Linked DNA regions of Homo sapiens. The protein of the gene in region 4 purifies or fractionates together with the protein of the main gene of each other region. This does not show direct contact. Each region holds a gene or a part of one and is shown on either strand. Other genes may lie near its edges. The genes, in order: RRP12, PRRC2C, HACD3, KLF15, FAR1, AKAP8 and MAP7D1.

Region 1 (3,500 bases), on a different chromosome or scaffold from region 4:
TAATGGTGGCAAAGAGGTTGAATTCCTGGGCTTAGGAGACTGGAAAACCAGGGTTCAAATTCCTGGTTTGCACAGACTGAGTCCTGTGACCCTGGGCAGGCTACTTACCTCTGTACGCTCCTCTGGTCACTGGGACAACGGAGTCCCTATCTTCGTGAGGCTATGTGGGGCCCTCAGCACAGTGCTGGGCACACAGCCATGCTCCCCTACGGTGGATGCCCCCACCCCATGCAGGAGCACACAGGGAAGCTGCTGCCCTTGCCCCTGCATAGCACATGCCCTCGCTAGAGAGACAAGGGTCTCTGCCTTCTTTCTCCTTTAACTAGACAACCATCACCCTGTCCTGCCTGGCACCCACAACCTTCTGGACCGCCTGCTATGCACACCTGTGAGGATGCACCGAGCATTCCAGAAACAGGGCAGTTCCAATGTCTACGTGTGGTGGGGGTGAGAAGCTGTGGAGCCCAGGCTTAGGTCTGAAGCCCTAGCCCCCCATCTGCAGGAACTACTCACATTCCTGATGATCACATCTTCCATTGGGTCAGCCATCTCTTCATCTTCGCCTGGAGCCAAAAAAGAGAGGCCCATGAGCGCTGTGGGAGCTCCTCAAAACCTACCCTTTCCTTCTGCCCCCTCCTGGCTCACCAGGCTGCGGGGCCACCAACTCCGGCCCCAGAAAATTGCCTTCCTCAGACCAATATCATCCTTCTGCTAGAAGAGATGAGACCCCTGAGCACTGCCCCTTTCTCCTTCCCACCCTAGGCCCTAGGGATAACGGCCCCTCAAAGAAGCGGTGATCCTACTTTTGAGGTGAATATGGCTTCGTTTGAAACTTTTCTTTTCCCACTCACCCACCCTTCATCTGTTTGAGATTTGAAGAAAGCCCCAGGTTTCCGGGGGAGTCAGGCGCTCCTGCAGCCCCATACACACCCCCACTGTGCCAGGAAGGCTTCATTCTCCTGTTTGAAATCTCTGCCCCATGCAGTATGTGCTGGGCTCCATGTGGGAATATAAAGTATGAAACTGACCAATTGGAGGGAAGAGAAACTCAGGCAAAGTCAATCAACAACCAAAAGACGATAGAGAGCACGTGACCGGCCATGTGTGGTGGCTCACACCTGTAATCCCAGCACTCTGGGAGGCCGAGGAGGGAGGATCACCTGAGGTCAGGAGTTCAAGACCAGTCTGCAACATGGCAAAACCCCATCACTACTAAAAATACAAAAATTAGCTGGGCATGGTGGCGCACGCCTGTAGTCCCCGATACTTGGGAGACTGAGGCAGGAGAATCACATAAACTCAGGACATGGAGACTGCAGTGAGTCGAGATCGAGCCACTGCACTCCAGCCTGAGTGACAGAGCGAGACTCTATCTCCAAAGAAAGCACATGACCAAGGGCTGAAGACTGGGTTTCCTCTGGGCTTGGCAGGAGTTCTGGGGGAATCAGGCCTAAAGGCTGAGGTGCCCAGGAAGGGCTACAAAAGGAGCTTTGAGCTGAATCCTGAAGAGCAGGGGGGTTTGGAAAGGCAGAGAGAGAGGGGAGGGGTCCTGACAGCCTCAGGAATGCCTGGGCACCAAGGGGGACAGGAGATGGGAAAGTATACAGGGGCGAGAGAGGAGCAGAGAAGACACTAGACACGGAAATATAACAGGCACATGTACACCAAGTACATACGCTGTCCCCATTACACCGATTCATCTTCATTCCAACCCGGAAAAGTGGGTATTAGGATTGTATGATATCCACTCTGAAGCAAGGAAACGGAGCTAAGGAGAGGCTGACCGAGCGGCTGCAGTCGTGTGGCTGGTGAGTTGGGTGCATGTGGAGCAGTGAGGCTCCAGTTAGGAGGTGCAGTGAGACAAGGGCCCAGAGCTCGCAGCACTGGGAACCAAACAAAGGGATGACAGGTGTGTTCTTGAAGACCTAGGTGTTTTTTTTTTTTTTTTTTTGAGACAGAGTTTCGCTCTGTCACCCAGGCTGGAGAGCAGTGGCACAATCTTGGCTCACTGCAAGCTCTGCCTCCTGGGTCCACGCCATTCTCCTGCCTCAGCCTCCCGAGTAGCTGGGACTACAGGCGCCCGCGACCACGCCCAGCTAATTTTTTGTGTTTTCAGTAGAGATGGGTTTTAACCGTGTTAGCCAGAATGGTCTTGATCTCCTGACCTCCTGATCTGCGCGCCTTGGCCTCCCAAAGTGCTAGGATTACAGGCGTGAGCCACCACGCCTGGCGAAGACCTAAGTGTTTCTTAGCTAATGGCTGGATATGTGGAGAGGGGCCAGGAAAGACTAAAGAGAGCTCCGAGATGCCACACCGGAGGGACTCCCGGGCAATGTGAGACATTGGGATTGGGAAGTTGGGAGGGTTTCAGCCTCTGGCTCTTTCTGCCTCTAAATCATCTTCAGGGCCTTAGCCAAGTTTGCATTAAAAAAAAAAAAAAAAGAGGAAGGAAGAAAAGGAGAAAGGAAGAGGAGGGGGAGGAGGAGGAGAAAAACAGAAGAGACTAACAGCGTATCACACACAGTAAGGGGAAGTACCATTTCCGATAGTTTCCTTTAAGTTAAATATGTATTGTATAAATGGCTCGGTTACAACATAAAAAGATTTCTTAATGTTTCTCAAAAAAAGTTTGAGAAACTCAAAAAGTTTGAGGAAGCTGCCGAGAGAAGAGTTTCTCTGGTCTGTTTTTAGCCACGCTTCCTCAGCAAGTGATCACCGAAGGAATAAGTGAACACGGTGAATGAATGGACAAGCGCGTTGGGCCCACCTTTGGCACCTTCCTCTTCCTCCATCTTGTTGCCGTCTGCCTCCTCCCTTATGATCAGCCGGCCATCGGCGCTCACCTTGAAGCCGTGGTCCTTCTTCCTGCCCCGGCCTGGCCCTGGCTGCGTGGCTGGGGTGTAGAGTTTGGCATGAGGAGGTGGAAGGCCAGTCCCATGCTACTCACCCTCATCATGACCAACAAGCCCGGCTCAGGGATCCCAAACGGGCGCCTCTCAGCCCTGTCCATGGGCCTGCCATGGATGCCACCCCCTACCCACCACCTGAGAACCTGGCACCATGGCAAGTCTGTTTTCTGAGTGCACTGGCCAGCCCTGTGCTTACCCAGGACTCGTTGGGCCACCTTGGGATCCAGGAAGTTGAGGGGCTCGTCCCCACCGCCCTCTTTCAGCCATGCCCGGCTCCTCTGTCGTGCCAGCTTCCGCTGCTCCTTGCCTCGGCTTCTTTCCTCCTCCTCATTGTCCTCCTCGTCCTCTGAGTCAGCTAAAATCTCCTCAATGCTAAGGACAAAAAGCCCCCAGTCAGAGTGCTCCCAGGAGAGGCGGGGGTCAGCGGGTATTGCCTGGGCAGGCCCTTGGGTTGGGGGGACACCGGGTCCCATGGCCCTAACATGGTCTCACCTGTCACCTTTGCCCTGGGCGGGCTCCTCCTCCTCCTCCTCCTCTTCTTCCTCCTCCACGGCAGCCTGGCTCAGGGCTCGGTGCCTCTTGGCCCGGGCC
Region 2 (3,500 bases), on a different chromosome or scaffold from region 4:
TGTGTAGTGTTTCTGAAGATCATTCCAATTTAGGACTGAAGCATAAATCTGGTTTCCTTCTATTTAATTTAGCATGCTACGCTTACTCTTTGGACATATTCTCTGTATTCATTAGGGCATTTTGTAACCTGGTTCTGTACTCAATTGTATGCTGTAATTTAGTATTAGATGTTGAAATTGGTAGGTTCTTTTTTGAGATAGGAACTTGCTCTGTTATTCAGGCTGGAGTGCGTTGGTATGATCTTGGCTCACTGCAGCGTTCACCTCCCAGGCTCAAGTGATCGGCTTACCTCAGCTTCCTGAGTGGCTGAGACTACATGCGTTCACCACCACACCCCGCTAATCTTTGTGGGGTTTTTTGTTTTGTTTTTGTTTTTGTTTTTGTTTTTGAGACAGAGTCTTGCTCTGTCTCCCAGGCTGGAGTGCAGTGGCGCGATCTCAGCTCACTGCAAGCTCTGCCTCCCGGGTTCACACCATTCTTCTGCCTCAGCCTCCTGAGTAGCTGGGACTACAGGCACCCGCCACCACGCCCAGCTAAATTTTTGTATTTTTAGTAGAGACGGGGTTTCACCGTGTTAGCCAGGATGGTCTCGATCTCCTGACCTTGTGATAATCTTTGTATTTTTTATAGAGATGGGGTTTTGCCGTGTTGCCCAGGCTGGTCTTGAACTCTTGGGCTCAAGCAGTCTGACTGCCTTACCTCCCAAAGTGCTGGGATTATAGACGTGAGCCATCGTGTGCAGCCACTTGGGATGTCTTTATTGTAGAGTAGGTGTGAAGAAATTTAGGTGTATCTACAATGCTTATATAATATAGCTAGATGTAATTTTTCCATTAGTGAGATGTTTCTTTTTAACAGTATTTTAGGGAACATTTTTAAGGCCAAGATAAGGAGAAATACAATAATACAAAGTTAACTTTGAAATGGCGCACAATTGGTGATGACTGTAATAATTTATAGCCATACAGTTGGAACTTCCTGCCCTTTTATGGGCTATATTTTTTTGGTAATGTTTTATAATGTTTTATAATTATTTGTAATTAACTGGGACAGATAAGCTTACTCAAGTGTACTCTTTCATTCTAGGTGGAAATTACTGGTCTTGATGGATTAGAAATTCACATCAGCATGGTCTTAACTTTGTTTTTCCTTAAGGAATAAACTTCATTTATTTATTTCTATTTTTTATTTTTATTTTTTGAGAAGGGTCTCGCTCTGTCAGCCAGGCTGGAGTGCAGTGATGCAATCACAGCTCACTGCAGCCTTGACCTCCCAGGCTCAAGTGATCCTCTCACCTCAGCCTCCTGAGTAGTTGGACTACAGGCATGCAGTACCATACCCGGCTAATTTTTGTATTTTTTGTACAGACAGGGTTTTTTCATGTTGCCCTGGCTGGTCTCAAACTCCTGGGGCCCTAGTGATCCTCCTGCCTCCCAGAGTGCAAGGATTACAGGCATGAGCCACCGCTTCAGGCCCATTTTTTTTTTTTTAATGGAGTTTTGCTCTTGTTGCCCAGGCTGGAGTGCAATGGTGCCATCTCAGCTCACCGCAACCTCCGCCTCCCGGGTTCAAGCGATTCTCCTGCCTCAGCCTCCCTAGTAGCTGGGATTACAGGCATGTGCCACCACGCCCAGCTGATTCTGTATTTTTAGTAGAGACGGGGTTTCTCCATGTTGGTCAGGCTGGTCTCGAACTCCCGACCTCAGGTGATCCGCCCTCCTCGGCCTCCCAAAGTGAGGATTGGGATTACAGGCGTGAGCCACCGCACCCGGCCCTATTTATTTTTAATTGTGGCAGAAACCACTTAGAACATTAGATATATCCTCTTAACAAAAATTTAATCATATGGTACCATGTAGTTAACTGTAAGCAGTGTTATACAGCAAATCTCCAGAACTTTTTTTTATCTTGCATGACTGAAACTTTATACCTATTTCCTATTCTTACCTTTACCTATATTTCCTATATTTACCTTTACCTATATTTCCTATATTATACCTATACCTATATTTCCTATTTCCCCCTACTCCTAGCCCCTGGCAGCCACCATTATGGTTTCTGCTTTGATGAAGTTGATTATTTCATGTTCCTCATGTAAGATATTTGTCCTGACTGACTGACTTCACTTAAGCATAATGTCCTCAGGGTTTATCCATGTTGTAGCATATGACACTATTTCCTTCTTTTTTATCCCTGAATAATATTCTATTGTATGTGTATACCACATTTTCTTTATCCATTCAGCTATTGGATATTTAGGCTGTTTCCACCTCTTGGCTATTGTGAGTAATTCTCCTCTAAACTTTTTATATAGCGAGAGAAAGATTCTCATTATGGTTAAGAGTCATTGCTTTCTGTTTTAGAGGGATTATTTTGCTATATACTTACGCATGGGAAAGATTGCTTTGTTGATTATACCTTTGAATTCTTATCATCATAGGTCTGAAGCTGCGTTGGACCAGGAACAGATTACTGCTGCTTATTCTGTAGAACATAATCAATTAGAGGCTCACCCAAAGGCAGACTTTATCAGAGAATCAAGTGAGGCACAAGTACAAAAGTTTTTAAGCAGATCTGTGGAAGATGTTAGACCTCACCATACTGATGCAAATAATCAGTCTGCTTGTTTTGAAGCACCTGATCAAAAGACCTTATCCGCTCCTCAAGAGGAGCGGATTTCAGCTGTAGAAAGTCAGCCTTCCCGGAAAAGAAGTGTTTCCCATGGATCTAACCATACGCAAAAACCAGACGAGCAGAGAAGTGAACCATCTGCAGGCATTCCTAAAGTAACCAGCAGATGCATTGATTCAAAAGAACCAATAGAAAGGCCAGAGGAGAAACCAAAAAAGGAAGGCTTTATACGATCTTCTGAAGGACCAAAACCTGAAAAAGTATATAAATCTAAATCAGAAACTCGTTGGGGCCCACGACCAAGCTCTAACAGAAGGGAAGAAGTTAATGATAGACCTGTGAGAAGATCAGGTCCCATTAAAAAACCTGTACTTAGAGATATGAAAGAGGAACGGGAACAGAGGAAGGAGAAAGAAGGAGAAAAGGCCGAAAAGGTCACTGAAAAAGTAGTTGTAAAGCCTGAAAAGACGGAAAAGAAGGATCTTCCTCCTCCCCCACCACCACCTCAGCCACCAGCACCAATTCAGCCACAGTCAGTTCCACCACCAATTCAACCAGAAGCAGAGAAATTTCCTTCAACAGAAACTGCAACTTTGGCTCAAAAACCATCTCAGGATACTGAGAAGCCTCTGGAACCTGTGAGTACTGTTCAGGTAGAGCCTGCAGTTAAGACTGTAAACCAACAGACTATGGCAGCACCAGTAGTCAAAGAAGAAAAACAACCTGAGAAAGTCATCAGCAAAGACCTTGTTATAGAGAGGCCTCGACCAGATTCAAGACCAGCAGTTAAAAAAGAATCAACTTTGCCTCCCAGGACCTATTGGAAAGAAGCTAGAGAGAGAGATTGGTTTCCAGATCAAGGATACAG
Region 3 (3,500 bases), on a different chromosome or scaffold from region 4:
GAAGCCTTCCCTGACCACTCTATTTAAAATAGCCTCTACCAATTATTCTCTATTTCATCACCCTCTTTATTTCCCTCATAGCACTTTATCTAGGTAATTATTTATTAACATATCTATTGTCTGTCTCCCTCAATCTGAAGGTAGTGCCTTTATATGTGTTGCTCATTACTGAATATCTAGTACTTAGCACTGTGCCTGGACCATTGTGAGTGGTCAACAGTTACCAGATTATTTAACTTACTGCTTTATAAGTAGTTTTTGTACTGTGGTAATAAACAGCTTAGACTTATTGATTTCTATTATTAAATATTTCAAGCAAAATCAAACAGAAAAATATAGCAAACACCACTATATCTAACATCCATTAGCATTTTGCTTTATTTGCCTCAATTTTTAAAAAAAGAAATAAAACAGAAACAGATACATTATACAATTTCTCAATCCCAATGCCCTCTCCCTCAAACATGCCCCAACTTCGCAGGTAACCACTACTCCAGGATTGGAGTTGGTCGTTTCCACTGTATTTATTTATTCATTAAAACACGTTGGGCATTCACAATATACAGTATGATTTGACATGTCACAAAAATAATTTCATACTGCCTATATCATTCTTCAACTTGCTTTTTATTTGATATTATATTTCTAAGCTTTAATTCTATAAAGATGGTTCTGTTTCATTCATTGTAGCTGTTGTACAGTGTGCCATTGTATAAATATACCACAATTTATCCATTCTTCCAGCTGACAAAAATTGAGGCTGTTTTCAATTTTTTGCTGCAATGAACATTCTACCTCCACCTGCATGTGTAAGAGCTTCTCTAAAAAGCAAAACTTCCAACTCATAAAGACATACAACTTCAGCTTGACAAGATAGTGTAAAACTGTTCTCCAAATCAATTGTACCAATTAGTACTTCCACCAACTGTATAAAAAAAGTCCGGCTGGGCACGGTGGCTCACGTCTGTAATCCTAGCGCTTTGGGAGGCCAAGGCAGGCAGATTACTTGAGGTCAGGAGTTCGAGACCAGCATGGCCAACATGGTGAAACCCCATCTCTACTAAAAATACATAAATTAGCAGGGCATGATGGCGGGCGCCCGTAGTCCCAGCTACTCGGGAGGCTGAGGCGGGAGAATCACTTGAGCCCAGGAGGCGGAGATTGCAGTGAGCCAAGATTGAGCCATTGCAATCCAGCCTGGGGTGACACGGTGAGACTCCATCTCAAAAAAAAAAAAAAAAAAAAAAAAAAAGTCCTGTCACTGAACATTCTCAGAAACACTTGGTCATGTCAGGCTTTTTCAATTTTCCTACTCTAATGTGAGAAACAGTATCCTATCATTTTAATTTACAGGCATACCTTGGAGCTATTGTAGGTTCTGTTCCAGACCACCACAATAAAGCTAATATCACAATAAAGTGAGTCACACAAAGTTTCTGGTTTCCCAGTATATATAAATGTTATGTTTATATTATACTATAGTCTATTAAGTATGCAGTATTATTCTAAAAAACAGTGTACATACCTTAACTTTAAAATATTTCATTGCTAAAAAATGCTAATGATCATGTGAGCTTTCAGGGAGTTGTAATCTTTTTGCTGGTGGCGGGTCCTGCCTCAATGTTGATGGCTGTGGACTGATCCAGGTGGTGACTGCTGAAGGCTGGAGTGGCTGTGGCAATTTCTTAAAGGAGGACAACAATGAAGTTTGTCTCATTGATTGAGTCTTTCCTTCACTAAAGATTTCTTTGCAGCATGCAATGCTGTTTGATACTGTTTTACCCAGAGAATAATTTCTTTTAAAATCAGAGTATACTCTCAACCCCTGCCACTGCTTTATTAACTAAGTTTATGAAACAGTATAAACCCTTCATTGTCATTTCAACAATGTTCAGAGCATCTTCATCAGAAATAGATTCCATCTCAATAAATCACTTTCTTTGCTCATCCATAAGAAGCAACTCCTCATCCCTTCAAGTTTTATCATGAGATTGCTGCATTCAGTCACACCTTCAGGCTCCACTTCTAAGTCTAGTTCTCTTGCTATTTCTACCACACCTGCAGTTACTACCTCCACTGAAGTCTTGAACCCCTCAAAATCATCCATGAGGGTTGAATTCCACTTCTTCGAAACTCCTGTTCATTTTTATATTTTGACCTCTTCCTATGAATCACAAATGATCTTAATGGTATCTAGAATGGTGAATCCTTTCCAGAAAGTTTTCAATTGACTTTGCCCAGATCCATCACAGAATCACTACCTACGACAGTTTTAACCTTACGGAAAGTATTTTCTAAATAAGACCTGAAAGTCAAAATTATTCCTTGATCCATGGGCTGCAAAAGGAATGTTATGTTAGCGGGCATGAAAACAACATTAATCTCCTTGACATTTCCATCAGCACTCTTGGGTGGGACTAGGTGCACTGTCAATGAGCAGTAATATTTTGAAAGGAATATACATATATATATATATATATATATATATATATATATATATATATTTTTTTTTTTTTTTTTTTTTTTTTCTGAGAAGTTGGCCTCAACAGTGGGCTTAAAATATTCAGTAAACCATTCTGTAAACAAATGTGCTATCATCCAGGAGTCGTTGTTCCACTTACAGAGCATAGGCAGAGTAGATTTAGCATAATTCTTTTTTTTTTTTTTTTTGAGACAGAGTCTCTCTCTATTGCCCAGGCTGGAGTGCAGTGGTGCGATCTCAGCTCACTGCAACCTCTGCCTCCCAGATCCAAGCGATTCTCCTGCCTCAGCCTCCCAAGTAGCTGGGATTAAAGGCGCCCGCCACCATGCCCAGCTAATTTTTTTTATTTTTTAGTAGAGACGGGGTTTCGCCATGTTGGTCAGCCTGATCTTGAACTCCTGACCTCAGGTGATCCACCTGCCTCGGCCTCCCAAAGTGCCGGGATTACAGACATGAGCCACCATGCCCGGCCGATTTAACATAATTCTTAAGGGCCCTAGGATTTTCAGAATGGTAAAGGGGCACTGGCTTCAACTTCAAGCCACCAGCTGCATTAGCCCCTAACAAAAGAGTCAGACTGTCCTTTGAAGCTTTGAGGCCAGGCATTGACTTCTCTCTAACTATAAAAGTCCTCCACGGCATCTTCTTCCAGTAGAAGGCTGTTACATTGAAAATCTGTTGTTCAGTGCAGCCACCTTCATCAAGGATCTTAGTTAGATCTTCTGGATAACTTGCTGCAGCTTCTACAATCAGCACTTGTAGCTTCACCTTGCACTTTTATGTTATGGAGCCTTTCCTTAAGCCTCATGAATCAACTTCTGCTAGCTTCAAATTTCTCTTCTGCAGCTTCCTCACCTCTCAGCCTTCATAGAATTGAAAGAGTTGGGGCCTTGTTCTGGATTAGGCTTTGGCTTAAGAGAATGTCGTGGCTGATTTATATTCTATCCAGACCACTCAAACTTTCTTCATATCAGCAATATGGATATTTTGCTTTCTTATCATTTGGGTGTTCACTGGA
Region 4 (3,500 bases):
GAATCCTGCACCTACCACCTCTTGGCTCTGACGCTCAAGAGGAGCCTGGAACTCCCCTTCTCTGTCCCCCACCACATCCACTGTGGACGACAAAAGTACCCACCCTACAGGCTGATGACAGTTATTCATATTCATATTCACTGCAGCAGAAGGGATTCTTTCTGGATGGAATGGCTTGGCCATTCTGGAACAGGACGTTCTGCTGCAAGGAACAAAGGATGCCTATGTCTGACAGTGAGGCAAGGAAACTTCTAGGAAGGCAGGCAAGCAGCACTTCCCAGACGGCTGGATCAGAACAGGGAAAGCCTGCTCTCAGCCCTGTTGAGGGTGCCAAAATCATGTCACCAGAGAAGGGACAGGGAGTACTCTTAGGACCAAAAGCAGAAGGAAGTGGAGGCTGAGTACCTGGGCAGGTGACGACCTCAGCAGTGGAGGGAGGGCACTGTCCATTACACAGAGGTATGAGGGGCCTGAGGGGCCCTGGCTTGTTCTCCGAGCACAGGACATGGTACTAGGCCAGAGCCAGCCTGGGCAGAAAGAGCATCCCATTCATCTAGGCCACCAGGAAGAAGAGACGCGGCCTGGGAGTGGAGAGCTCCCCCACGGGGAGTAGGTGAGTGTGTAGAGCTGCCACCCCAAAGACCAGGCTGAGCTGCAGATGGAGGTGGAGGTTCCCAACACCAGAGTTAGCACCCAACACCGGGGTGCAGAGGGAGGTCCCTGATTCTGGGCAGACAGCCTCAGCTGAACTCCTGGCTCTGGGGCTTACTGGCTGGCTGACTGGAGAATTTACCTAACTCTTCTGTGCTTTAATTCTCTCCTCTGTGAAATAGGGACAACATGCTGATGCCTACTAATTTTGAGAATTACGTAAATTAATATGTGTGAATTTTGCTCAGAGCAGTGCCAAGTATGCATTAGAGGCCCTGGTTATTATCTCGATTGTGGTCGTTAGCTCTTTTCCCATAGCCCAGAAGCATAATGCCTTTTGGGCCGACCTCTTGGTGGGAGACTGGAGGCACACATGGCGACTCTGATACCAGCTAGGACCACCAGGTGGCCAGAGCAGGGCTCTGCTAGGGCTTAGTCATGCAACCCAGATCCTTGCTCACTAGCTATGTCCCTGTGGGCATGTGACGTGAGCAGTCTGTGCCTCAGTTTCCCTCTCTGTAAAATGAAGATTGGTGCCTACACTTTACCAGGCAGTTACAAGGACCTGATGAGCTAATGCGAAAACCTTAAGCTGTCACTACAGCCTCAAGGGCAGGGGTCATTTGAGACAGAGGGCACAGAGAGGGCGGATGCCCACGCGGGAGCCTGAGCCACAGCAGGGAGGCCAGCGTGGCTGGATCCCACTCAGTAAGGGGAAGAGACAGGTAAGCACATTGTGTGGGTCTATGGGCCAGAACGAGAAGCTTGAATAGAAACTGAAGCACAGCAAAGTACACTTAAAGGCCTCAGAAGGTAATGAGCTCCCCATGGCAGGAAGTATGCAAGTTACAATAGTGGGCGGAGGGGATTCCAGCTCTGAGAAACTTAGAATAGTGCCCAGCATACAGTGAGTGGTCAGTAAATACGCCATCTCACCATCATCATCGTTACCCTTCCAGTCCTGTCCAGACCCAGCTGCCCCAAAGCGGGGTCCATCCTCCCTCCTGACTGCTGTAAGGAGCTGCAGGGGCTCCCTCTCAGTTGAAGACTATCACCACATTAAGAGACACAAGCAGACTGGGCACATCCCCAGGGTTTCAAGATCCCTGAAAGCCAGCTGAGGACTCCCCGCATCCTCAGAAAAGCAGCCCTCCCTAGAGGCCGGTGTCCTCAGCTCCCAGCCGAACAGCGCCTCTGCCATGAGTTACCCCACCAGGGCCAGACCCACTCCAGGGGACCTTGGGGGAAGCTGGAGGAGCCCTCAGGAAGCCCGGGGCATGGCTGGCAGCAGGGACAGCTCCTGGGGGCAGTGCCACTGTGATCTCACTGGGCCAGGCAACCACTACACCTTCTCTTGCCAAGTGGGTCCTGGGCAGCACGACCAGTGCCAGGGCTCAGATGTGTCAGAGCTGAATCCCCTCCACAGGTCCCCACTCTCTCATGTACACCCCCTGCCATGAGGAACTCATTACCTCCTGAGGCCACTGTATAGAGAACTAAGATCTGCCTCACTGAGATACACTTTGGGCTGAGGGGCCTATCAGCTCTCTGGCCCTAAGATATCCAGGAAGAAGGCTGGCCTTGGATGAGGACCACACCTGCCCTCCCCATCACCCTACCCAGCCTCACGGCATCTAGAGGAGCTACTTGCCAACGGTCGACTATGGCCAGGAGACGGCGCTGAAACCTGAGCCCGACTAAGGAGTCCAGACTGGTGCTTGGAGGGAGGTTTCCCTGCCTCTCTGCAGCCCCTGCCCGCCCTCACCAAGAGGAGAGTGCATACAGGGTCCCTGGGAGTAGGGGGTCCCTTCACAATAGGCACCACCCTCTTGGGGGCTGGAGAGAATGCCTTCAGGGTTCCTCCTCAGAAACTGCCGTGTATGAGTTTGTATCCTTATGATGTACAAACAACAAGGAGGCCGCTGTGGAGCCCTGCACGCCTGCCCTGGGCTGCAAAGGGCTAGCCCTCCACTCTGCAGACAGGAAACTGAGGTTTGGAGGGGGACCACCCCAAAGGCACATGACAAGTTAGTGGCTGACCCAGGCGTAGGCTCAAGACCACAGCCCCCACATACCTGTGCCCTCGCCTTCTCTGCACAAGTTTCCTGCTTCAATCAAGAGCACTCCTGGCCCTTCTCTCGGCTCCTCTAACCTCCTATGCAGTGTACTTGCTGCTGTGTCCTCCTCTCACAAGCAACCTGTCAGCCATGCACCCACTCGGCAGGCCTAGGTACAAAGCTCAGAGAGGTGGGGACTCCAGGATGGAGACCTTGTGAGGCCCCAGGGTGGGCTCTCACAGAAGCCTCTCCGGTCTGTCTGAATGGGGTGGGAGACAGGACAGAGTGATGTCCTCACTCAGGAGGGGCCTCCATAAACCTAGACACTGTTCAGGAAAATTCCCTTCTCTGGCCAGATTGGCACTCAATGGAAAGGTGGCACCAGTGCCACAACATACATTCCACTCACAGCTCCCTGACCACAGCTCAGCCTCACTGGCCAGAACCTCTGCCCCAGACAACTCTCAAGAGCTCTCAGAACCAGAGTATGGTCAAGAAAACAAAAGCTGCAAACTGCTCCCCGGGTGTTGCACCCACACATAACACATGCACACACAGGCAGCCACACATGGTGCACAAACACCTAAGACATGTATGTGTGCAAACACATATGGTCACACGGCACAGACAGACACAAAGAAAGCAAGATGCATACACATGTGGGTGTGCACACACACAGCCACACACCTGCTGGCGAGGCCCAGGCCTGTATACACCCCCAGGGATACAGATGAGTGTGCCCCGTCTCACACACGTAGCAGCAGCCACAGCAGCAAAGATTTGGAATGTGCC
Region 5 (2,589 bases), on a different chromosome or scaffold from region 4:
TACATTGCATTTAAATTGACAAAGAAAGTTAAGATGTAAAGCTCCATGTAACTTTTTGTATTGCGAACTGTTCTCTTTAAACATACTCCAGATACACTGCTGATTATCTAATACAGTACAACTTGATAAACTTAATTAGAAGTGTTATGCTGAACAATTTGTTAAATCAAATGTATGTTAAAACAGTAAGTAGAGTTAACTATTATGATTAAAAGGGAATTTTAATGTATCATTAAAATATACATCAATTTTCTTGCTATTACTTGTTTCTATAACGCATTTCTTTCTAAAGCTAAAATCACATGCATAAAAAATAAGTGATACCTTCAAACTCATTCAACAGTTTGCTACCTTATGTAGTATGTAAATAAAGTCCTTTATTTAATTTCGTACACATTATCTTAAGCATTATTTTATTTTTCTTGAAGGAATTCATCTTTCAAGGTCAAAATTAGTATGTGTTTACACACGAGTATATTTTTTAATGCTATTACTACCTGCAAATACATTCTTCCATAATAATGCACTTTCAGTTTTCACTGGAAAGATAGCACAAGCCTTTTAAAAGTCCTATGAATAAAATTTATAAAGGGAGGAGAACACAAGTATGGTGAATCCTTCCCAACTCCCACTTCCATCAAATCTCAAGAAATCCTCCTGCTTCAAAACATAAACAATCTCACAAGATTTTTATTTGATCATAATGTGGAAAAGAAAACTGTATTCCTATTCTTTTTGATACTAACAGTTTTACGGAATTTGTTTTCACTTTCTGTCAAAAAACACGTATGTTGCTGATATGGATTCTCAAACCCATTTAGATCGAATAGGGTCATTAGAATAATATAGCCTTCTGATTTTAAAAGCAACTGATTACTTATAGAAAAATGATATGCATCAGACGTTTAATCAGAAAAAGAAAAATGAGAACATCTCTTTCATGTTTGATATCATTTAACTTACAGAATGATGTGAAAATACGCTGGTTATAATTTTAAACAAAACTAAAACCCACTTCAACTAATGAAAAAAACAAAAAATGAAGAATCAAATATCTACCAACTTTGCTAGTATTACTGTCCAAATAAATGTCTTCCATTGCACTGAACATTAGAATTAGAAATTCACTATATGTTAAGGCATATTATTTTAATTAATATGTTCCAGAATTGCACAGTTATACTGGTCAGTGTTCCTATTTCCCCACTCTTGTCCTCAGCACACCCCTTTCTTCTAGGGCTCAAAATATTAAGTCATGGTTTTGGTGGCTACTGTAGATTTGAGCTGGCATAACACAGTGTGTTCACTAAGTTTTATGAGCATAAACATTAAAATGTTACATAAAATATACCATAATTTACTTCACACTCCGATCTAAGATGGTTTAATGTCTTGACAAAAAGTGAGATGACTTATACATTTTACATTTTGTACATTTAGATCACCATATGTATAGATGTTCTAATGCTGAATCCTTGGTCTTCAGTATCTCATAGTGCTGGATGCTCGGAAGTATGACAAAAACTTGTAACACAGACTAACCACAAAGTACCAGATATTTCTTGCCATTTGTGATCTTGCAATAAAAATGCGCCAGATGAGGATCACAAGGATAGTATTAAAACCATAACGTATATTCCGCAACCTGGAAAGCAAATCAAGAGATATGTTAGACAGTATTTTCTAGAAAAAAATATTGTTAGATGGCAGCTAATTAATACTGAGTTTTTAATCAAAGCTCAAATCCATATTAATTTGAAACTTATGATAGGCATTAAGTATACTGTAGGTAAAACAGATATGTACCTTGAATTTCTAGAGCTTCCCATCTAATCTAAAAAGGTTCATTCATTACATACATCACAGTACAGACAAAATAGAGCAAACTTTTTTTTTGACATCTTTAGTTGCTTACAAGTTGTCAGACAAGTAACTTACTCTTTCAGTTACAGGTGACAGTCACAAGATCAAAGGCCAAGTGGATAAGCCCTTATCCAAGCATAAAACATGGCATTAACTTGATAAAGGAGGATCCTCCCTTTTCTCAAAGAGTAACAATATGTTACTCTCATGTTTCAGCTCATGTTTCAAAAAATTTTGATGTTTCTGATGGTGTTTGAAAGAAATACAAACCTTTAGAGATGTAATAATGTTACATAAATTATACTGACCTCAGCAGGCAGTGCAAGATAGGACGGCAATGTAAGAAAAATGATGTAGAGAAAAGAGGTTCGAATATGGAGTCAAAGATCAATATTCTAGTTTGCTTTGCCACTCAATACAATATGGCTTAGGCAAATATAACTTTCCTAAGCCTCAATTTCCTCATCTATAGAACTGGCTGCCCTGCAAAGTCGCACAGAGTTATGAGGCATGAGAGGGATAATAATGTGAAAGTCTTAAAAAGTGTCATAAAAATCACATTAAAAAGCACTACAAATATAAGAGATTACCATTAAAAATTATCTGCATCTTTGAATGACAGATATAGCAAATATACCAGTTTACCAAAAAAATTGTGGAATATTTCATAAGGAAGACAAGAAGCAATCAAATCCATGCATCAAACTCACTTGTTCAGATGTTTTC
Region 6 (3,500 bases), on a different chromosome or scaffold from region 4:
GGAAGTGAGGAGCGTCTCCGCCTGGCCGCCCATCGTCTGGGATGTGAGGAGCCCCTCTGCCTGGCTGCCCAGTCTGGAAAGTGAGGAGCGTCTCTGCCCGGCCGCCATCCCATCTAGGAAGTGAGGAGCGCCTCTTCCCGGCCGCCATCACATCTGGGAAGTGAGGAGCGTCTCTGCCCAGCCGCCCATTGTCTGAGATGTGGGGAGCACCTCTGCCCTGCCGCCCCGTCCGGGATGTGAGGAGCGTCTCTGCCTGGCCGCCCTGTCTGAGAAGTGAGGAGACCCTCTGCCTGGCAACCGCCCCGTCTGAGAAGTGAGGAGCCCCTCCGCCCGGCAGCCGCCCCGTCTGAGAAGTAAGGAGCCCCTCCGCCCAGCAGCCACCCCGTCTGGGAAGTGAGGAGCGTCTCCGCCCGGCAGCCACCTTGTCCGGGAGGGAGGTGGGGGGATCAGCCCCCCGCCCGGCCAGCCGCCCCGTCTGGGAGGTGAGGGGCGCCTCTGCCCAGCCGCCCCTACTGGGAAGTGAGGAGACCCTCTGCCCGGCCAGCCGCTCCGTCCGGGAGGGAGGTGGGGGGGGGTCAGCCCCCCGCCCGGCCAGCCGCCCCGTCCGGGAAGTGAGGGGCGCCTCTGCCCGGCCGCCCCTACTGGGAAGTGAGGAGCCCCCCTGCCCGGCCAGCCGCCCCGTCCGGGAGGGAGGTGGGGGGGGTCAGCCCCCCGCCCGGCCAGCCGCACCGTCCGGGAGGGAGGTGGGGGGGTCAGCCCCCTCGCCCAGCCAGCCGCCCCGTCCAGGAGGTGAGGGGCGCCTCTGCCCGGCCGCCCCTACTGGGAAGTGAGGAGCCCCTCTGCCCAGCCACCACCCTGTCTGGGAGGTGTACCCAACAGCTCATTGAGAACGGGCCATGATGACAATGGCGGTTTTGTGGAATAGAAAGGCGGGAAAGGTGGGGAAAAGATTGAGAAATCGGATGGTTGCTGTGTCTGTGTAGAAAGAGGTAGACGTGGGAGACTTTTCATTTTGTTCTATACTAAGAAAAATTCTTCTGCCTTGGGATCCTGTTGATCTGTGACCTTACCCCCAACCCTGTGCTCTCTGAAACATGTGCTGTGTCCACTCAGGGTTAAATGGATTAAGGGCGGTGCAAGATGTGCTTTGTTAAACAGATGCTTGAAGGCAGCATGCCAAGAGTCGTCACCACTCCCTAATCTCAAGTACCCAGGGACACAAACACTGCCAAATCTCCCTCTGCGAGAAACACCCAAGAATGATCAATAAAAATAAATAAATAAATAAATAAATAAATAAATAAATAAATTGGCAGTGGGCAAAAAAAAAAAAAAAAAGAAACAGGATTTTCAGTAATTTTTTTTCTTTCCTTTTTTTTTTTTTTTTTTTGGAGATGGAGTTTTGCTCTTGTTGCCGAGGCTGGAGTGCAATGGTGCGATCTCAGCTAACCGCAACCTCTAACACCCAGGTTCAAGCGATTCTCCTGCCTCAGCCTCCCGAGTAGCTGGGATTACAGGGGCCCGCCACCAAGCCTGGCTAAATTTTTGTATTTTTATTTTATTTTATTTATTTATTTTTTTGAGACGGAGTCTCCCTCTGTTGCCCAGGCTGGAGTGCAGTGGTGCGATCTTGGCTCACTGCAACCTCCGCCTCCCAGGTTCAAGTGATTCTCCTGCGTCAGCCTCCCGAGTAGCTGGGATTACAGGCGCCCACCACCACTCCCAGTTAATTTTTGTATTGTGAGTAGAGACGTGGTTTCACCATGGTGGCTAGGTTGGTCTCGAACTCCTGACCTCGTGATTGACCCACCTCAGCCTCCCAAAGTGCTGGGATTAAAGGCGTGAGCCACCGCGCCCAGCCTATTTTTTTTTTGTATTTTTAGTAGAGACAGGGTTTCACCATGTTGGCTAGGCTGGTCTCGAACTCCTGACCTCAGGTGATCCACCTGCCTTAGCCTCCCCAAAGTGCTGGGATTACAGGCGTGAGCCACCGCACCCAGACTTTTCTTTTTCTCGAGATGAGATTTCACTGTATTGCTCAGGCTGTTCTCAAACTCCTGGGCTCAAGCGATCCTCCCACCTCAGCCTCCCAAGTAGCTGGGATTAGAGGTGCATGCCACCGCACTCAGCCAGGGAAAGTGGCTGCTGAACCAAGAGTTCCGACTTCCCAAAGGGCAACAGAATGGCAGTTACCCAAACTTCCCCAGCTGAAGAATGGGAACACAGGCTTGCAGGTATCTCAGGAAAATGACTCGCATAGTAATCTGCTGGCACTGCAGCCCCTCTGGCCCCAAAGCCCCTGAGAAAACACCAGAAAGCTGCAACTGCTTGGAACTGGGGACGCCCTAGGCTCTGGCTGGCAGCTCTTGGGGCCCAGCATCTAGCTTCACAGCTTCTCAGATGAGTTCCTCTCTGCAGGAACTGGGATGACATAAGGCAACCTCATTTTACGTGCAGACAAAACACCTCGCACAATTCAAAACACAAAACCCAGTATCAGTTCTGCCATGAGACTACACGTAAAGACATGTCACATCAAATTCTACAGATAAAAAGTGAGGCTTCTTTGTCACAGGCTTTCAAAGTCTCCCCAAATGCAACCACGCTGCATGGCAAGGGAGAGCAGCCTGCAGGCCCCCAGGCCACCACACTGGGGTGCTCCCTCCCTGGCTCTCTCCTGGAGGCTCCTGCCCCTTCTGGTGTAGGGGTGCAGGCCCTGTGGCACTCAGGACTTCACCTCTGCCAACTCCACATGCCTGGCTTCTGACCTCTGACAAGCAACATGAAGACACCTCCGCTTCTGCAGACAGCCCCTACGTAGGCGGGGAGGGGACAATCTCCCGGGGCTCATACACAGCACTGTCAGGAAGCTACTGATGAGCTGTGTGCTTCCCTGCTACACCTCTGCCTCCCCGTGAGAATTCCTCCAAGTCCCTTCGAGATCCTCAGTCATGGCCAGGCGCGGTGGTTCATGCCTGTACTCCCAGCACTTTGGGAGACCAAGGTGCGTGGATCACCTGAGGTCAGGAGTTTGAGACCAGTCTGGCCAACATGGTGAAACCCCGTCACTACTAAAAGTACAAAAATTAGCTGGGTGTGGTGGCGGGCGCCTGTAATTCCAGCTACTTGGGAGGCGGAGGTAGGAGGATCACTTGAGCCCAGGAGGTGGACTGTTGCAGTGAGCTGAGATCGTGCCACTGCACTCTAGGATGGGTGACACAGCAAGACTCCATCTCAAAGGATAAAAAAAAAAAAAAAGAAAAAGATCCTCAGTCACTAGCGCACACTCTGAAGGTTTCTTTTTTTTTTTTTAAAAAAAGTCACCTGTTCATTGGAAGAACATACAAGATGAAAAAAAAGCAAAAAGAAAAAAAAAAAAAGCAAAAAGTAGTAAAAAAAAAATGTCATCTCTATACCCTTCTCCCAGTACTCTGGGAGGCCAACGCAGGAAGATCTCTTGAGGCTAGTTCAACAGCCCAAGCAACAGAGAAAGACCCCTA
Region 7 (3,500 bases), on a different chromosome or scaffold from region 4:
GCCTGGCAGAGCCAGAAGAGAAGGCAGGGCTGAGGAGTACAGGGAAGGCTGCTGGGAGGAATGGAGCTGGGTCCAGGAATCAGGAGATCTACCTGTGACCTGCGGGGACTGCACCACAGCTTTCTTGAGGAAGGCTTCTGCCTCTGCAAAGGGCAGGAGTGTCTCTGGTGTTCGGCTCAGACTCTTGTCCCCAGAGGGTCCGTTGGTGGAGAAGCCATTCTCCTGGTGTGCTGGGAGAGGCTGCAGGCCATTCACCAGGGACGCTGGCAACTCCTTGCTTGGGAGACTGTGGATGCAGAGGCCAAGGCTCAGCACCTCACCTCCCAGGAAAGCCCAGGCCACCCCGCAGCTCCAGCTGCAGTCTGCCTCCCTGCTCAGGGACCCTGGGATTGGAAGCTGGTACCTCCACTGAGGCTCCTGTGGGATGGGCTCCTCTTTCTGCACAGCCTCCTTCTGCAGCCCTGGGGACCGAGCCTCCACAGCTTTCACAGGCTCTGTCACAGGGAAAGAGGGGCCATCAGCCAGGGGCTGGCAAGAGAGGTGAGGATGGAGGAGGAGGAGGATGGCAAAGGGAAGGGAGGCGAGAGGAATGGGGGCTTTACCTGGGCTGGAACCGTTGGCGTTGGCCTCCTTGCTGTCCTGCTTCTGCTTTGAAGAGGAAGAGCAGTCAGGCTCAAGGGACAGCCGGCCCCAGCCACTTCGGACTGAGTTCGGCCCTCCCCTTGCCCGGGCCGCAGCGGCCTCCCTGACAGCCTCGCTCTCCGTGGCCATGGATGCCTTTCCGCAGCCTCCTTTTCACACCCTGCCCCCCACGCCCAGCACTGCCCTTCGGGGGAATTCTGACCTTGGTTTCAGAAACTTCTGACTTCCGAGTCCTCTTCATGATCTCCTCCAGACGCTGTTTGGAGGCCGCAGATCAGTTAGGCTCGAGCCCCGCCCCTAATCCTAAACCTCCCACCAGCCAGACCCGGCCTCGGAGTCTTAGGGCCTCCCAGCTCATAGCAGCCCTCTCCAGGACAGGAACTGGAATTTGCCCCAGCGCTTTCCCGTCCTGTCCGCTCTAAGCCCAGGCCCCGCCCACCTGGCCCGCCCTGCCCAGGCCCCGCCCACAAATCCCCGCCCAGGTCCGCACACCTTTCTGCGCTCTTGCCGCTCTTGCTCCTGCTGCTGGAAGTGCTTTTCCCGCTCCAGACGCTGCCGCTCCGCCTCTTCCCGCGACCGAGCTTCGGCCTCCTCTTTCTGCCAAAGACCCCCATGAGCGTGGGGCACTTGACTCCAGCCTTCCCTCCCGGCCCGCGGCGCCCGCGCCCAGCCGCTTCCCGCCCGCCGGGGGCACCTGCTTCTGCAGCCGCTCCTGCTCCTCCTGCTCGGCCTGCGCCTTCTCTCGTGCCTCCTGCTCCTCCCGCCTCCGGGCCTCCGCCTCCCGCTCCGCCCGGGCCTCGGCCTCCCGTGCCAGCTGCTCCTCTCGCATTCGCCTGGGGGACGGAGCAAACGGCTCAGGCTCGGCCTCTGCTTCTTCTCCAGCGCCCACGAGGGCCCCCTCAGTCCCCGAGGCGCACTCACTTGTCCCTTTCTGCCTGCAGCCTCCGCTCCTGCTCCTCGCGCTCCCGCTGCTCCCGGGCCTGGCGCCGCTTCTCAGCCAAGAGCCGAGTGGCTTCTTCTCGGTCTGTGGTGCCGGCCATTGGTTTGCTAGGGGTCACCGGGGGAGCAGGGGCTGGGGGTGAGGTCAAGACAGCAGCGTCTGGAGGGGGATCCGGGATCAGGCGTCAGCACACCCACGCAGACACCGCCGTCATCTCCCAGCGGCCTGTGTTCTGGGCCTGGGACTGCTGAGGGCAGGAGTCTCCTCTTTCCATGTCCCACTCCCAGTCCTCAGGCATCTCTGGCGGCCCACACCCCCACACAGGAGAAGCTGGCTTCTCTCGCTCGGCCCACCCCTCCCCTCTCTTCATTCCTACCTGTAGGGGTCTCCGCGGGGGGCTGCTCCTTCTGGGGCGGGGCTGGGGTGGGCGAGGGCGCCGGCGAAGGTGCCGGTGAGGCTGGGGCTGCTGACTCCTTCTCGTTACTGGCCCTGCGCTTGCTCTGGCTCTTGTCCTCGGGCCCTGCGGCGCTGGGGCTCTCCTTTGCCTCCTCCTTCCTCCGAACCCGCCCCTTGGGGGATGCAGTGGTGCCTCGGGGGGACGGTGGCTTTGGAGGCAGAGTGTGGCCTGGCCCTGGGCTGGGGCAGGGGGAGGCAGGCCTGTGCCAGGATGTGGAGGGAGAGGATGGCCTGGCCTTGGATTTGGGGCTAAGAGAAAAGGGAAAAGGGAAGGGTTAGGAGACACACACACCCACACGCTGAGAACTTGTTCCTTCCTCTGGGAGGTGCCCCCTCCCCCAGGCTACATCAGCGCCGCCCCCCGCCCCCTTGCTCTCACAGAAACACACCATTCCCTTTTAGAGCATACACCCCAGTTTGTAATGACATGTTTCTGTGGGATTCTTTGATTATTGTATGTCCCCCGCCAATAGCCTGTAAGCTTAATAAGAGAAAAAACCATGCTTGGGTTAGCTCAGCAACGTGTCCTCAGCACCCTGAGTGCTACCTGACAGGTCCATTCATTCAGCAGGTTTTGTTGTTGTTGTTGTTGTTGTTTTTAAGACAGAATCTGGCTGACCCCCAGGCTGGAGTGCAGTGGCATCATCATACATAGCTCACTACAGCCTCGACCTCCTGGGCTCAAGCAATCCTCCCCTTGGCCTCCCAAAGTGCTGGGATTACGGGCGTGAGGCACTACCCTGGCCCTTCAGTAGGTATTCACTGAGTGGTTACCAGGTGCCAGGCACTATTTTAGGTGTTGGGGTACTTCAGTAACCAAAACACTTAAAAAAACAAAAACAAAAACGAACAAAAAGAAAAATGGAGGCTGGGCGGGGTGGCTTACACTCACACATGTAATCCCAGCACTTTGGGAGGCCAAGGCGGGTGGATCACCTAAGCTCAAGAGTTCAAGATCAGCCTGGACAACGTAGCGAAACCCCCACTCTACCAAAAATACAAAAAATTAGCCGAGCGTGGTGGCGCGCCTGTAGCCCCAGCCACTTGGAAGGCTGAGGTGGGAGGATAGCCTGAGCCTGGGAGGTCAAGGCTGCAGTGAGCCGAGATTGTGCCACTGCACTCCAGCCTGGGTGACAGAGGGAGATCCTGTCTCAAACAAAACAGAGAGAATCTGCCCTCAGGGAAGTTGCATTCTAGAGGTGGTTGCCCAACAAATATTTGTGGGTGATGAATAAATGACCCGGTGAGGGGCAGGGTCCCTCGCACCGCCCGCGCCCACCTGAGCTCAGAGGCGGTGCTGGCAGAGAGGCGGGCACGTGGGGAGGCGGGCAGCGACTGGCGCTTCTTGAGGCTGCGCTCCCGGGCTAGGGCACTCTTCTCCTTCTCGTTTTCCCGCTCCTTGTCCTTCTTCTCCTTTTTCTGCACCTGGCAGGGAAGGAGGAACGGAAGAGGAGAGTAGAGG

What was found.
Region 1: the proteins of KLF15 (region 4) and RRP12 purify together in Homo sapiens (affinity purification with mass spectrometry; one large-scale study listed by BioGRID and IntAct). This does not show direct contact.
Region 2: the proteins of KLF15 (region 4) and PRRC2C purify together in Homo sapiens (affinity purification with mass spectrometry; one large-scale study listed by BioGRID and IntAct). This does not show direct contact.
Region 3: the proteins of KLF15 (region 4) and HACD3 purify together in Homo sapiens (affinity purification with mass spectrometry; one large-scale study listed by BioGRID and IntAct). This does not show direct contact.
Region 5: the proteins of KLF15 (region 4) and FAR1 purify together in Homo sapiens (affinity purification with mass spectrometry; one large-scale study listed by BioGRID and IntAct). This does not show direct contact.
Region 6: the proteins of KLF15 (region 4) and AKAP8 purify together in Homo sapiens (affinity purification with mass spectrometry; one large-scale study listed by BioGRID and IntAct). This does not show direct contact.
Region 7: the proteins of KLF15 (region 4) and MAP7D1 purify together in Homo sapiens (affinity purification with mass spectrometry; one large-scale study listed by BioGRID and IntAct). This does not show direct contact.

What each region holds. Positions count from the first base shown.
Region 1 is NC_000010.11:97,363,341-97,366,840, forward strand, and holds part of RRP12 (RRP12-like protein), read right to left. Parts: coding exon 3,402-3,500; intron 3,282-3,401; coding exon 3,106-3,281; intron 2,894-3,105; coding exon 2,768-2,893; intron 564-2,767; coding exon 514-563; intron 1-513.
Region 2 is NC_000001.11:171,537,530-171,541,029, forward strand, and holds part of PRRC2C (protein PRRC2C), read left to right. Parts: intron 1-2,441; coding exon 2,442-3,500. UniProt on the Homo sapiens protein: Required for efficient formation of stress granules.
Region 3 is NC_000015.10:65,536,963-65,540,462, reverse strand, and holds part of HACD3 (very-long-chain (3R)-3-hydroxyacyl-CoA dehydratase 3), read right to left. Parts: intron 1-3,500. UniProt on the Homo sapiens protein: Catalyzes the third of the four reactions of the long-chain fatty acids elongation cycle. This endoplasmic reticulum-bound enzymatic process, allows the addition of two carbons to the chain of long- and very long-chain fatty acids/VLCFAs per cycle.
Region 4 is NC_000003.12:126,347,409-126,350,908, forward strand, and holds part of KLF15 (Krueppel-like factor 15), read right to left. Parts: intron 1-3,500. UniProt on the Homo sapiens protein: Transcriptional regulator that binds to the GA element of the CLCNKA promoter. Binds to the KCNIP2 promoter and regulates KCNIP2 circadian expression in the heart. Is a repressor of CCN2 expression, involved in the control of cardiac fibrosis.
Region 5 is NC_000011.10:13,727,668-13,730,256, reverse strand, and holds part of FAR1 (fatty acyl-CoA reductase 1), read right to left. Parts: coding exon 2,574-2,589; intron 1,646-2,573; coding exon 1,483-1,645; 3' UTR 1-1,482. UniProt on the Homo sapiens protein: Catalyzes the reduction of saturated and unsaturated C16 or C18 fatty acyl-CoA to fatty alcohols. It plays an essential role in the production of ether lipids/plasmalogens which synthesis requires fatty alcohols.
Region 6 is NC_000019.10:15,362,788-15,366,287, forward strand, and holds part of AKAP8 (A-kinase anchor protein 8), read right to left. Parts: intron 1-3,500. UniProt on the Homo sapiens protein: Anchoring protein that mediates the subcellular compartmentation of cAMP-dependent protein kinase (PKA type II).
Region 7 is NC_000001.11:36,176,660-36,180,159, reverse strand, and holds part of MAP7D1 (MAP7 domain-containing protein 1), read right to left. Parts: intron 3,464-3,500; coding exon 3,318-3,463; intron 2,288-3,317; coding exon 1,959-2,287; intron 1,742-1,958; coding exon 1,564-1,741; intron 1,476-1,563; coding exon 1,337-1,475; intron 1,240-1,336; coding exon 1,135-1,239; intron 899-1,134; coding exon 845-898; intron 649-844; coding exon of another isoform or gene 646-648; coding exon 603-645; intron 495-602; coding exon 404-494; intron 287-403; coding exon 93-286; intron 1-92. UniProt on the Homo sapiens protein: Microtubule-stabilizing protein involved in the control of cell motility and neurite outgrowth. Facilitate microtubule stabilization through the maintenance of acetylated stable microtubules.